Linked DNA regions of Homo sapiens. The protein of the gene in region 1 purifies or fractionates together with the protein of each later gene. This does not show direct contact. Each region holds a gene or a part of one and is shown in the gene's direction. Other genes may lie near its edges.

Region 1 (4,207 bases):
AGTTATTGAACAGCTGTCCCAGACAAGGAAGGCAGGGTGCTTACCCCTACAGGAAATAAAAGGAACTAAATTCAACTCAGCACCCACCCTCAAAAGACTGCATCAAATGAGAAGAAATTGCTGCTGTTAACCAGGCAGACATCCCTAAAATCTGGAAGAGAGTTACAAAGTGCAGAGAGGGATCAGGTGAAGATTGTGCTGGGCTTAGGGTGGGGCATCAAAGCTGGGTAAATGGTGGCCATCTTCAGAAGGCACTAGTTCACCTTGTTTGGTTGTAGCTTAGATAGGTAACTTTCAACATTTTAACAAATAGCATGGTACTAGCACCTGCCAGCCGGAACTGACACCGGCCTGTAGTCTCAGCTACTGGGGAGGCTGAGGTAGTAGAATCGCTTGAGCCCAGTAGTTTTGCATCTAGCCTGGGCAATATAGCGAGACCACCCCCCACCACAAGTAAAATAAAATCATAAAGTCAAAACACCTGATACTGGCCCCACTGGAGCAGAATCTGAAGGCCCCTGTGGCACCAAGTATTAACACTTTAGTTGAGAGATTATAGGGAGGTGAGGGTTAGGGGATTCCTCGTAGTGTCTTCAATTTTAACAGTTGGAGCTGGTGCTTATAGCTCAATGCCCGGCCCTTCTGAAGGAAGGGAAAAAGGCTGGAGACGAGGTTCACCTTGTTTTGTGGAGGGCTCGAATGCCACGCTCATGAGGGCGTCCTTCACTCAGGAAGGAATGGGAGCCGTCCATCCCAAGGACCTCCCTCAATAAACATCCCTTCCATTCATAACTAGCCAATGCCATTTTAGGAGCTCCGAATGCCTGGAGGGGATACTGTTTTGGTTAAAGATACCATACGTGTCTGCCCTCTGGCAGCTGGAAGTGTAGAAGAAATTGGGGAAGGGGCGCCATGACCCCACAGCATCACAGAATTGGAAAGCTGGCGGGATGGGGGTGGGGAGGACCTTAGTTAACGCCGCGCCCCCCTCTCAGAGAGGGTTAGTGACTCGGCCAAGTTCACGCAGCCGGGTCCAGACAGAGACAAACCTCCCTTCCCCGTGGTAGCTGCAGAAGAGGAAGGGAACTCTTGCAAATCAGAGGCCAAGATAGCAGTGGAGTGGCACGGGGGCGGAAAGCGCATCCAAAGGGGAGAAAAATGCTGTATTCCTAGGAGTGGGATTGTCTTTTATTTTTATTTTTATTTTTATTTTTTTATTGTTGTTGGCACGGTTTCGGAGGACTTATTCTTGCTGAGTTAACTCCCTCTCCCACTCTTTTTTTTGGCCATGCCTGGGGAGGATTCGCGGTGTGGGGGGAAGGCGCGCCCCTGCGGCTTCTGAGGCTCATCTTCCCGGAGCGGAAGGAAGGAATCAGGCACCTCCTCCCAGCCGCCCCCACGGGCTCTGGTCCGCCCCAAGGCTTCCCTGAGCTCGCCAGGCCCCAGGGCTGTGTGGGGCGGGCTCCCGGCCAGGCGCGGTCGGGACGCCCGCCGGTCCCCAGGTTCGGGGCAGCGCGCAGCGCGGGTCCGCGGCGGCTTATCCTTTTTCGCGACCCGGCCTGGCAGCGCCGCGCTCCGCTTGGAGGGCACTCGGCGGCAGAGTTCCGCGCTGGGAGGGGTGAGGGGACCAGCCGCCTCCTCTGCGGACTCAGATCGAGCAGGAGAGAGTGGGCGCGGAGCTGGGGCCAGCGCAGGGCCGTGGGCTCCTCTCTGGGCACGCATCCTTTACGCCACGGGCTTTCAGGGGCTGAGGGGCCTCGAACCTTGCCAATCACCAGTGCTGTGCGCCCCGCTTGCTTTGGGGTGCGTTAAACGTCAGGAGAGAGCTGCTCAGATGGGGTCACCAGACGCCTTCTCCCCCTTTTCTCGGAGCCCGCGGGTTGCGCGATAAGCCAACCCAGCCGGACGCTGCGCTCCTATAAATAGAGCGCGTGTGCCCGCTTCGCGCTCTCCGGGCTGCACGAGGGACGAGAAAGTTGTGCGCAGGGACTGGGGGCGGGCGGCCAGGCAGGAGAGGACCCCGCCGGACCAGCCGCCCTGAACGCTGCGCCCGGCGCCCTGGACCTGATCCTGCGAATCCGCGCTTTCGGTGCGAGGGACCTGGCTAGCCGCTGCCTCCCTCCCTACCTCTGGGTGACACCAGGTTTGGGGGATTTTTTTGACCAGGCGAAAGTGGGAGTCGCTGGCGTCCTGGCCATGAACACAGCCTCGCGTTCTTCTCAGCCTGGGAAGGACCTTCTGCCTCTGTAACTCGTCCCTGCCGCAAGCCAGACAGGACTGGCACCCGCGCCGCTGGGCACCCGCCACCCTTGTGGCTTCTCTTTGAGTCCCCTCTTTTTGTTCCTGCTCCGTGGTTTAGCTGGTGGTGCTTGAGTTTGGGGTGAGAATTTATTATTATTATTATTTTTTGCCTTGAGGTGTGAATGTGAGGGTTTGATGACTTTCAGATGTCTAGGAACCAGAGTGGGTGCAGGGGCCCCAGGCAGGGCTGATTCTTGGGCGGAGGAGAGTAGGGTAAAGGGTGCTGCATGAGCTCCTTAAAGGACAAAGGTAACAGAGCCAGCGAGAGAGCTCGAGGGGAGACTTTGACTTCAAGCCACAGAATTGGTGGAAGTGTGCGCGCCGCCGCCGCCGTCGCTCCTGCAGCGCTGTCGACCTAGCCGCTAGCATCTTCCCGAGCACCGGGATCCCGGGGTAGGAGGCGACGCGGGCGAGCACCAGCGCCAGCCGGCTGCGGCTGCCCACACGGCTCACCATGGGCTCCGGGCGCCGGGCGCTGTCCGCGGTGCCGGCCGTGCTGCTGGTCCTCACGCTGCCGGGGCTGCCCGTCTGGGCACAGAACGACACGGAGCCCATCGTGCTGGAGGGCAAGTGTCTGGTGGTGTGCGACTCGAACCCGGCCACGGACTCCAAGGGCTCCTCTTCCTCCCCGCTGGGGATATCGGTCCGGGCGGCCAACTCCAAGGTCGCCTTCTCGGCGGTGCGGAGCACCAACCACGAGCCATCCGAGATGAGCAACAAGACGCGCATCATTTACTTCGATCAGGTCAGACCCGGGGGGAAGCGAGCACCTAGGGGGTGGGCGGTCTCCAGGCACCTCAGCACGAGGCTGCCTGCCCAGGCTAAGCTGGTCCGATTGGGAAATGGGGAATCATGTAAAGCACTCGCCTTCCCAAATATGCCTGGGTCTGAAACTTCTACCGTCCCTCTTCCTACCCCTCTCACCAGCCCCGGCTCCCATTTCTTCCGGGCCCCTAAAAGAGGCTGCTGCGGCGGCGGGGGAGAGGCTTGGGAGCCCAGAGCCCGGCAGCGAGAGCTCAGGGCAAGTTTCGAGCAACAGGTCGGCGGGAGCCGAAGGGCACCTGGTCCCTGGACGTCGTTATCTCTTGGCCAGATCTTGGTGCCCTTGCTCAGACTCCTCTGCGGGTGCCGCTGAGGCTGCTCCCTGGGTACCTTTGCGGAACAGGATAAATGTTTGATTTGTTTCTCCCAGGTAGAGAAGCTTCTCTCCCAAGAGAGCCCCGGGCTTCCACACTCTTCAGAGATCGGGCAGGTGGCCGCGGAGGGCGGGGGCAGAGCCGGGGGTCAGATCTCGCCTGCAGGTTCCACTGTTCGTGTGCCAGGCACCGCTGGCACTGCCGCTGCCTCGGAGTAGGCAGCAAGCCCTTCTCCGGTACTTAGAGAAAAGTTGCGGAGGAGGGGAGGAAAAGGAATTTGGCAACTGCGCTGAGCTCCTGTAGGAAAGCGCTTGGGAGCCAGTTCTCCCTTCCCGGGCTCATGTCCTTTCAGAGAATTGCAAATAGCTGGGGAAAGACAGACTTTGAGGTTGATGAGAGTAGGGGAAGAGCTGACGGAAGCTGTAGCTGCTGTTTAGCGACCTGGTGCTCCGTGTTTGGCTTGATGAGAAACCCCAGGATATCAGCTTACCTTTAGCAAGGGGTCTTAAGGGAGAAAACTGTCCTCAGAGTTTTTAATTTCAGCCCCAACAGTATCCAGAGTCTTTTTAAATTCCAAATTCACAGTTCACAGTTGTATGCAAAGCTGCAATGTGCAGGGGGCACAGGTTAAGTGGTGTTGCAGGATGTGCCAGGGAAAGCACGAGGTGACATCTGTATTCCTTGCTTAATTTTTCCTAACTAATGCACTCTCCAGCTGGCCAAAGACAGAGAATGCCTCTCTAGGGGCTTAGTATTTGATAGACATAATT
Region 2 (3,500 bases), on another chromosome or scaffold:
GATTACCTTGTTCTCCTTCACCATCTCTTCCATTATCTATCATCCTTCTTCAGATGTATTTATTTATCCATCCACCTACTCATCCCTCCATTGTAATCGTCCGTCCATCTACTCATCCACTCATCCGTCCATCCAGGCAACCAGGCAGTGCTGAAGTGCACAGACTGCCACTAACTACTATTGTGACCTTGGACCAGTCACTTCCTTTTATCTGTGCCTCTTATCAGTGTCCCCACATGTACAATGGGGGGATATCAGTAGGCCCCCCTCGGGAAGAGTGTAAGAGATGTGAGAATAAAATGTGGGTCTTCGTGGAAACAGTGATGATTATGGTTGTCACTGTTGCTATTATCATCATTGACATTCCCACCGGGAATTTCTGCCAGGGAAGCCGGTGCCCAGAGAGGAACGGTGACTGGCCGGGGTCCCACCAGAGCCAGGGTCAGACTCCTCCATCACAGTTTGGGTGGTGAGTGGCACAGCCTGTGAACAGGCCTTCCTGGGACACAGAGCTCAGGCCCCCGTCCGTCCACTGTCACGCCCAGGTGGTGGTGTCCCGCGTGGCCCGAGTGTGCAAGAACGACGTGGGAGGCTCCCCCCGCGTGCTGGAGAAGCAGTGGACGTCCTTCCTGAAGGCGCGGCTCAACTGCTCTGTACCCGGAGACTCCCATTTCTACTTCAACGTGCTGCAGGCTGTCACGGGCGTGGTCAGCCTCGGGGGCCGGCCCGTGGTCCTGGCCGTTTTTTCCACGCCCAGCAACAGGTCAGCGCCCACCAATGGGAGCAAACTGGGAGCATTTGGTGGGCATGGGTAGAGAGGGCCTGTATTCACTCCTCAGGTATGCCCTGGGTGCTAGGTTGGGCACCACTGGATTAGACCTCTGAGAGGCCTCGGCCCCAGGCTGGGGTGGGACAAGCTGACACTGACCCTCTAAGTCCCTTTGGTCAGAACTGGGCCAAAGATATCCTCATCCTCTGCCTTTGGGGAGAGGAGCAGGGAGGGCTTCCTGGAGGAGGGGACATTGGAGCTGGACTTTGGGTGTGAGATGGAGGAAGAGGGAAGGGTGTTCAAAGTTGGAGAAACAGCATGTGCAAAGGTCCTGAGGCTTCAGTGAGTTCAGTATACTTAAGTAATCGTGAGAGAGTCTGTGTGGGAAGGGAACTAGGGGAGAATGCACAACAGGAAAGCAGGGAACTGGTAGGATGGATCAGGCAAGGCTTTGTGGGCTGCAGGCAGAAACTTGGACTTTTTCCCTGAGAGCACTGGGGAGCCATGGAAGAGTGAAGAGCAAGAGGGATGAGATCAGGTTTGCATTTTTTGTTTGTTTGTTTGTTTGTTTGGTTTGGTTTTTTTTTTGAGACAGTTTCACTCTTGTTGCCCAGGCTGGAGTGCAGTGGCGCGATCTCGGCTCACCACAACCTCTGCCTCCTGGGTTCAAGCAATTCTCCTGCCTCAGCCTCCCTAGTAGCTGGGATTACAGGCGTGCGCCACCACACCCAGCTTATTTTGTATTTTTAGTAGAGACGGGGTTTCTCCATTTTGGTCAGGCTGGACTCAAACTCCTGACCTCGTGATCCACCCGCCTCAGCCTCCCAAAGTGTTGGGATTACAGGCGTCAGCCACCGCACCCGGCCAAGGTTTGCATTTTTAAAAAGCCTGCTTGTGGACTGGGCACGGTGGCTTCGCCTGTAATCCCAGCACTTTGGGAGGCTGAGGAGGGCAGATCACTTGAGGTCAGGAGTTCGAAACCAGCCTGGCCAACATGGTGAAACCCCATCTCTACTAAAAATACAAAAATTAGCTGGGTGTGGTGGTGGGCACCTGTAATTCCAGCTACTCGGGAGACTGAGGCAGGAGAATTGCTTGAACCTGGGAGGTGTAGGTTACAGTGACCTGAGATCACGTCACTGCACTCCAGCCTGGGCGACAGAGCAAGACTCGGTCTCCAAAAAAAAAAAAAAAAGCCTGCTGGGGAGTGGGCTCTAACAGTGACACTGGGCAGGCAGGACATCCAGTTAAACAGGGATGGGGGCCTGGACAGGGGTGGCCTCGTAGACCCTGAACTGTGGCCCAATCTGAGATGTTATTCAGGAGGAGTGGCTGCATTCGACAGATGCGGGAGGGACAGGGGACATCTCTGGCCTAGGAAGACTGAAGATTCACTGGCTCCTGCAGACAGAGGCTCCTGCACGCACTTGTCCGAGATGGGGCCTCCCACCGGGCTCACCAAACTCTTTCATCCCAACCCCTCAGCATCCCTGGCTCGGCTGTCTGCGCCTTTGACCTGACACAGGTGGCAGCTGTGTTTGAAGGCCGCTTCCGAGAGCAGAAGTCCCCCGAGTCCATCTGGACGCCGGTGCCGGAGGATCAGGTGCCTCGACCCCGGTGAGAACCCCCTCCATCCTGAGTCACATGCCCGGATGAGGTCCTGATCCCCAGGGCCGAGGGCTGGGGCTTCCGGGTGGTTATTTAGCTGATGCTGAGTTCAGCTGTACCCGTTATACAGTTGGGAAAAACTGAGGCCTGGTGTGGTGGCTCACGCCTGTAATCCTAGCCCTTTGGGAGGCGGAGGTGGGCAGATCACCTGAGGTCGAGGGTTTGAGACCAGCCCGACCAACATGGCGAAACCCTGTCTCTACTAAAAATACAAAAATTAGCCGGGCGTGATGGCACGTGCCTGTAATCCCAGCCACTCGGGTGGCTGAAGCAGGAGAATCGCTTGAACCCAGGAGGTGGAGGTTGCAGTGAGCCAAAGCACTCCAGCCTGGGCGACAGATTGAGACTCTGTCTCAAAAACAAAACAAACAAAAAACCTGAGGGTCGTTGGGCAAAGCAATGGGTACCTCTGGTGAATCAGGCCCCTTTATGAGAACCTTTACGTTCGTCCTGACCACACCCTTGTCACCCCCAGGCCCGGGTGCTGCGCAGCCCCCGGGATGCAGTACAATGCCTCCAGCGCCTTGCCGGATGACATCCTCAACTTTGTCAAGACCCACCCTCTGATGGACGAGGCGGTGCCCTCGCTGGGCCATGCGCCCTGGATCCTGCGGACCCTGATGAGGTCGGTCCTGGAGAGGCAGGGCATGGCGAGGGGAGACAGGATGGGGTAGATGGAGGGTGAGAGGATCCAGATGCTCAACACAGATGAGCCCATGGCTTCCGGCGCTGCCCAGAGAGCTGGAGACACAGAGAGACAGAGAGGGAAAGATGGAGAGACACTAGGAAAGAGAGAACAAAGAGAGAGACAGAGGGATCAAGAGGTGACAGATGGGGCTGGGCACGGTGGCTCATGCTTGTAATCCCAGCACTTTGGGAGGCCGAGGCTGCCAGATCACCTAAGGCCAGGAATTCGAGACCACCCTGGCCAACATGGAGAAACCTCGTCTCTACTTAAAATACAAAAATTGGCCGGGCATGGTGGCTCACGCCTGTAATCCCAGCACTTTGGGAGGCCGAGGCAGGCGGATCACGAGGCCAGGAGATGGAGACCATCTTGGTT
Region 3 (3,204 bases), on another chromosome or scaffold:
CCTAGGTGACAAGAGCGAAACTCTGTCTCAAAAAAAAAAAAAAAAAAAATGAAAAAAGGTAGATCTCTTGCATCCAAGTTGGTTCATTTGCTTCCCCTGTCCTTTATACCAGGGGTCAGTAAACTATAGCCACCTGGCCAAACCTGGCCCACTGCCTATTTTATAAATAAAGGTTTGTTGGAAAACAGCCATACTCATTCATTTATGTATTTTCTATGGCTGCTTTTGCACTATAATGGCAGAGTTAAGTAGTTTCAGCACAAATCATCTATCCCACAAAATCTAAAATGTTTCTGTCTGAGCCTTTACAGAAAGTGTGCTGACCTCTGCTTTATGCAGTAGTTGTCATATATTTTACATCTACATCTTATAGCCCCAAATAAGATTTTACTTTAAATAGGTTTTGCTTTTAACAATTCTGTGCATTTTGAGGAAACTAAAATAAAAAATGGTATTTTATAATTACCCTCATGTATACCAGTTTGAGTGTCAGTTTTCCCTGAAGATCTGAGTTTCCATCTGATAACATTTTCCTTCAGCCTGAAGAACTAACTTTAGTTTGGAGTGCAGGTTGATTGGGGATCAATTCTAGCTTTCTGTTGTATGAAATGTCTATTCTACCTTCATTGTTGAAGGACAGTTTTGCAGGATACAGAATTATAGATTGACAGGTTTTTTTCTTCTATTAAAGACTTCACTGTCTGCTGGCCTCCATTGTTTCTGTTGAGAAATCAGTGATGGTCATTTGAATTGTTCCCTTGTATTCAATGTGTCATTTTTGAGACCAGCCACCAGCCTGGGCAACACAGCAAGACCCTTATCTCCCCCTAAAAAAGAAACTCTAGGTTCTATTGTTCCTTTGCTCCTCCAAAGAGTACTGTGTTGTTTAACAGGCAGTTTACTTCATACACTGTGTTTGCGTCCCCAGCCCCCCATTTGCTTGGTTCGTTTATTCTCCAGGCTCTATGGTTGCTTTTAATATATTTTGGTCAGAATTTGTAGCTGTTATCCATGGAAGAATTGAATCAAAAGGCACTTACTTGGTATTTTGTGGTGATTCATTTTCAGGTTGCCCAGTCTGCCATATTGCTAGAAAATTAAGTTTTATTACACTTATAATAAGGAGGAAAAGATCCATTTCTATGTTGGGAAATGGTTGTGGGGGGAAAATGCAAGGGTTTTGGAGTCAGATCAGTTATGAAATTTGGCTTTGCTACCTGCTAGTTATGTGACATTGGTTGTTTTCATTTAACCTTTTTTATTTTATCTCAAAAATGGGGATTAAAAACACCGATATGAAATGTTTGTAAGATCTGAGCTAGTCCCACTCTACCTGAACCATACACGTATTTCTTTGATAAAAGGTGAGACTTTGTCCCACAGGGTCCATTTTGTTTAATTTGCTGGAACCTAGGAATGAATATGCGTTTTCCTTTAAGTTTGTCAGATTCATCCCTGAGAGGTCTGAGATTTAAAGAAAAAATCTATTACCAGATCACGTAAATGTTTGAAATCATTTTAAAAAATCACTTATTTTTCCTTTTATAGGAATCACCTCCTCATGTAGAAAATTACTGTCTACCAGAAGCTATTTCATTTATTCAGAATAATAAGGAACTTGGGACTGGATTATCACAAAAGAGGAAAGCTCCTACAGAAAAAAATAAAATCAAACGACCTAGAGTACACTAATCGCATCTACCCTTTAGTTACCAAACATTAAATGTTTTTAAAAATTGAAAGCCTGAATGTGACTGTGATAGATTTGGGTAGTAATTTAAAGATGAGTACCTGAAGAATTCTGCTTCAGAGTATAATGATGACCCTTCTTGAGTTTTGAACACCTGAAATTGTAATCACTGAAATATTAACTGTTTCTTAATAAAAAGTTACCTGAAATAACAACAAAATACAACTCCTCAGCTAGCTTGCTGTTAAACCACATTGAAGTCTGTTAAAAGATATTTATTTTTCTTGTAAATATCTGAAGCTGTAGCTTAGTGGAAATTTTAGCAAGGTAATGGATTTTGCTTTAAAATGTCTGCCTTACAAATTCATAACAACAAGATTTGTCAGTCAGCATTTATTCATGTTTTCCCTGATTTTTATCTTCTCACCATTTTACCTCTTTTAACAGGAGCCTGAGCACAAGGTTTAATGAGGAAGCTGGGGCTATAAATATGTGTGTATATATGTATATGTATGTTTGTACAAATCTCCATGATGTTTGCCAAGTTTGAATGCGCAAAACTTGGAAAATGTGACAATAAAGAATAAAAGTAGTAACTCAAATTAGTATTAAGATGTGTTTACATAGATAAATTTTTTAAAAGAGCACCCTGGCATCTGTTCTTCTGTTGAAGCAACAAAACATTTATGTAACGTAAAAAATGAATTGCAGGGGCCTGGGTGCGGTGGCTCGTGCCTGTAATCCCAGCACTTTGGGAGGCTGAGGCAGGCGGATCGTCTGAGGTCGGGAGTTTGAGACCAGCCTGACCAACATGGAGAAACCTCATCTGTACTAAAAATACAAAAAATTAGCCCAGTGTGGTGGCACATGCCTGTAATCCCAGCTACTCAGGAGGCTGAGGCAGGAGAATCGCTTGAACCCGGGAGGCGGAGGTTGCGGTGAGCTGAGATCGCGCCATTGCACTCCAGCCTGGGCAACAAGAGCGAAACTCCATCTCAAAAAAAAAAAAAAAAAGAATTGCAGGCCAGGCACGGTGGCTCATGCTTGTAATCCCACCACTTTGGGAGGCCAAGGTGGGTGGACTGCTTGAACCCAGAAGTTCAAGACCAGCCTGGACAACATGGCGAAACCCCATCTCTGCAAAAAATAGCAAAAAATTAGCCGGGCATGCTGTTTGATGCTTGTAGTCCCAGCTACTTGGGAGGCTGAGGCATGAGAATTACTTGAACTCAGGAGGCAGAGGTTGCAGTGAGCTGAAATCATGCCACTGCAACTCCAGCCTGGGTGACAGAATGAGACCCTGTCTCAAAAAAAATAAATGAATTGCTTAACATTTCTGATATTTGTTATTTAGAATATTGCCCTATTAGATTAAAACATACTGTTATTGGAACTCTGTATTGCATTAGCCTTTATTATGCTAAACCTAAACACCTAATACTACATGCGTTACCAGAATTCTCTATAAATACACCTAATTTCATTTTAAGGACAAACTAGAATCCGTTAGGAAT
Region 4 (3,500 bases), on another chromosome or scaffold:
TCGCCCAGGGCCAGAAGAACCGCGTGAAGCCACCAAAGGAGTCAGCACTGTGCCTGTTCACGCTCAGGGCCATCAAGGAGAAGATTAAGGAGCGCATCCAGTCCTGCTACCGTGGTGAGGGCAAGCTCTCCCTGCCGTGGCTGCTCAACAAGGAGCTGGGCTGCATCAACTCGGTGAGTTGGGCAGGGGCGCCCCTCCTCCCGCGGCCCCATCCCCTCCAGGGACGACGGCATCGGTGTCAGATGCACGCCCAGTGGTGCCTGCTGTGTGCCTGGCCTGGCTTTTGGCTTGGCCATCCCCATGGCTCAGCTAGGTGGGGCTGCCCTTTTCCATCCCCCAGAGAGTGGGTTTGGACCCAGGGTGCTAGCCCCAAAGGCTGCTCCCAGCCATGATGCTGTCTTGTGCCTCAGAAGATGGGGTGACGAGGCCCTGCTGGCATAGTCCACAGCCCCTGTGGGACACTGGACAGAGTGCCAGCCACATGCCTGGTCCTACACCTGGTGCTTGCCTGCTCCATCTTGTCCCCATCCTACAAATGAGGTTATAGGATCAGAGAGGTGGGGTAACTTGCCCTGGGTCACACAGCAAGTGAGAGGCTGGTGCCAGAGCCTATCAGGTGAGCCCAGACACCATTTCCATGGAGCGCTTGTGTCCCCCACATGACCCTGGTGGCACCTGCCCGCTGGGCCTCTGCTTTTGCCCAGCAATGGGAGCTGATGGTGTCCTGGTGCAGGCCACAGTTAACAACTTGCAGAGAAAGTGACCCTGACTGCAGGGAGCCACAGCCCCCAGCACCCATCAGAAGGCACAGCTGGGGTGGGGCCTCTATCTCGCTGCCTTTCAGGGAGTGTCTTGTTCACACTCCTGGGCAGGCTCAGAGGGCACGGGCCTTGCTTAGGGTGGAAAGTGAAGGGGCTGGGACTCGGCCCAGACCTGGGACCCCCGAGGCCAGGCCTTCTGGGCTTGCTGCTGGGGGTCGCTGGCCATCGCAGGGGAAGGCCTCGCCCTCTCTGGCTGTAGTCTCCCATGTCTGACCTGAGGGTGTTGCTGGTTTTGTCCTCAGGGCAGAGTGGGACTGCAAGGGCCCCTCAGTCCTTCCGTCTCACGCTCACTGCCTGTGTGAGGCAGGGCCCATGTGTGCTTGGCAGATGCGGTTGTCCACCCTCCCCTTGGCTTTTCAAGGAACGTGTTTTCTCTGCACCATACAGATGGAGACACTGAGGCTTGTAGGGGCAGAGCCTGGGTGAAGCCCCACCACACTCTCTCTTTGTGCCCTGCCCCAAGGCTGGGGCCTGCTCTTTCATCCCTGGGGACAGTCCCCACTGCCCCCTCCCACCTGTTCATTCCATGTGGCCTAGCCCTGGCCCAGCCTCCCCTGCTCCTTCCTCCTGAGCAGCCTGGCCCCTGCCAATGAACCCTCTGCAGACAAGGACCATCTGCCCCACTTCTCCCCACATCCCTTCCCTGCCTGCCCTGCCCTCTCCTTAGGCCTGGCGGTGGAGCAGCGCCCCCTCCACACTGGCCCCCAGCTGCTCCGGAACCTCAAGCTATTGATTGCTTTCTCGTGCTCTTAGCTGGGAGCCCGCCCTCTGCCTTTCAGGTGTGATCTGCTCCCTCCTGTCTTAAACCCTCTCTGTCTGCACCTCTCCTCTGGGGGCTACCCCCAACCTCTCTAGAAAGACAACTGCACTCCCAGCCCTGCCCAGGGAGGCCCAGTCCTCCGGGAGAAGGTGCCCGGGGAGTGGCTCTCACCCTGCCCCTTCCCACAGCCCCTGCAGATCGATGACGACTTCTGCGGGCAGGACTTCAACCAGCCCCTGGGGGGCACAGTCACCATTGAGGGGACGCCCCTGTTCGTGGACAAGGATGATGGCCTGACCGCCGTGGCTGCCTATGACTATCGGGGCCGCACTGTGGTATTCGCCGGCACGCGAAGTGGCCGCATCCGCAAGGTCAGGCCTGGGTGGGGTGGGGTGAGGAGGGGGCTTGGGGCAGGAACAAAGGCTTGCGGCCGTCCCAGGTGGCAGGCCCAGTGCTGCTGTATGCTGTGGGAGGCTAGATCTGGCGTACAGGGGGCAGGGGGAATGTTGCCCTACACTAGGCCCAGTGACCTTGAAGGGCCCCACTCCCCTCTGTGCCTCTGCCCATGACTGGCCCCAGGCCCACTAAGCAAGGACACTTTGAGACCACGCAGGAGCCTGTGCAGGGGCCCAGGGATGCTGAGGCGGGGGCTGGCTCTCCAAGGGCACTTGACCTCCTGGGGAGGCTGCTGTGTGTGGGTGGTGAGGGCAGGCCTGCGCGGCCCCCTCCCCTCTGGGCCCTGCTCCCCAGCCAGGAGATCCAGTGTCTGCTGCCTCAGCACTCTGCCGGGCCAGAGGCCTTGGCCCTGCCTCTCCCCAGCCCCTCTACTGGGCCAAGGGCAGGGCAAGGGTAGTGCCCCTGCCTGTCTTTGGCTGGTGCTTGAGGAGCTCCAGCACACAGCCCTGGGCTGGCCCCACGGTGGCAGGGGGAGGGCTAGGTGCTACAGGGATGGCTGTCTGGTCTTCAGGGTTCTCCTTTCCTTCCCCAGAACAGTGGGCTGGACAGAGGCAGTGCAGAGCTTCCTGGAGGGTGTGGGTGGAGGGGAGCTGCCTGGGCTGGGGTGGGCACCAGGCTGGCCTGGTGTGGAGGAAGCTCCCGGAGAGACTGAAGGGTGGGGATACTTGGACACCCCAGAGGCCCAGTGGGCAGTGGTGGGTCCTGGGGTGCATAACCGGCACCAGAGGCTGGTGCCGATGCAGCTCCCCTGAGCCCATGTGTGCCCGCGAGTGGGGCTGGGCCGGGGGCTGGCCAGGGCTTGCAGCTCTCAGCCCGGTGCCCAGTGTTAGGAAGGGGGCCTCCCATCTCTGCCATGGTAGTTGCCCTGGGAGTGGTGGGGAGTCCTGCCCCTCCCTGGCTCTGTGATCTCTGGGAGGGGATCCCCTGCAGCCTCAGCTTCCCTCTGTGAAATAAGCCAGATGTTCAGGCTCTGGGCTGGGGGCGGGGGGTGCTGGTGGTCTTGGGGCCCGTGGGGGCCCAGCTGCTGATTGTAGGCCCCCCAGGGTGGGGGTGCCCTGGGGTCCTGCTGGTTCTGCTCATAGTGGCTATGAGGCTGAAGCTGATGGGGAAAGTCCTGTGACCCCTGAGTTGGGTCCTCTGCTGTGACTTCCCTCTTGGCCCCCATGTGGGGTACCGCCCTGTGGCTCTGGTGCGAGGCCCCTCCCGTCCTCTCAGCCTGCACTCCCTCTCCTCACACTGGAAGGCACACAGGGCTCTCGAGCGCATGGGGTGGGTGTTGGAGTGGGTTTTGCCAGACAGAGGACCGTGCTTGTGTGGAAGCCCAGTGCAGCAGCTTAGAGACATTTTGTGGGGCGCCCCAGAGCCTGTTACCCAGCCAGTGACCAGGTTCCTCTAGCCCTACCCTGTTCCTGCTGCCCAGCACTCACCCTCTTGTGCCCCAGGGGCACCGTTTGGGTCAGAGC

Evidence for each region. Proteins that work in one complex are often made in the same cells at the same time.
Region 2: the proteins of CBLN4 (region 1) and SEMA6B purify together in Homo sapiens (affinity purification with mass spectrometry; one large-scale study listed by BioGRID and IntAct). This does not show direct contact.
Region 3: the proteins of CBLN4 (region 1) and TOPBP1 purify together in Homo sapiens (affinity purification with mass spectrometry; 2 studies listed by BioGRID and IntAct, with this or other methods). This does not show direct contact.
Region 4: the proteins of CBLN4 (region 1) and PLXNA1 purify together in Homo sapiens (affinity purification with mass spectrometry; one large-scale study listed by BioGRID and IntAct). This does not show direct contact.

What each region holds. Positions count from the first base shown.
Region 1 is NC_000020.11:56,002,720-56,006,926, reverse strand, and holds the start of CBLN4 (cerebellin-4 precursor), read left to right. Parts: upstream 1-1,407; 5' UTR 1,408-2,755; coding exon 2,756-3,046; intron 3,047-4,207. UniProt on the Homo sapiens protein: Acts as a synaptic organizer in specific subsets of neurons in the brain. Essential for the formation and maintenance of inhibitory GABAergic synapses.
Region 2 is NC_000019.10:4,549,685-4,553,184, reverse strand, and holds part of SEMA6B (semaphorin-6B precursor), read left to right. Parts: intron 1-545; coding exon 546-763; intron 764-2,254; coding exon 2,255-2,386; intron 2,387-2,912; coding exon 2,913-3,062; intron 3,063-3,500. UniProt on the Homo sapiens protein: Functions as a cell surface repellent for mossy fibers of developing neurons in the hippocampus where it plays a role in axon guidance.
Region 3 is NC_000003.12:133,599,738-133,602,941, reverse strand, and holds the end of TOPBP1 (DNA topoisomerase 2-binding protein 1), read left to right. Parts: intron 1-1,548; coding exon 1,549-1,692; 3' UTR 1,693-2,704; downstream 2,705-3,204. UniProt on the Homo sapiens protein: Scaffold protein that acts as a key protein-protein adapter in DNA replication and DNA repair. Composed of multiple BRCT domains, which specifically recognize and bind phosphorylated proteins, bringing proteins together into functional combinations.
Region 4 is NC_000003.12:126,989,615-126,993,114, forward strand, and holds part of PLXNA1 (plexin-A1 precursor), read left to right. Parts: coding exon 1-173; intron 174-1,769; coding exon 1,770-1,952; intron 1,953-3,500. UniProt on the Homo sapiens protein: Coreceptor for SEMA3A, SEMA3C, SEMA3F and SEMA6D. Necessary for signaling by class 3 semaphorins and subsequent remodeling of the cytoskeleton. Plays a role in axon guidance, invasive growth and cell migration.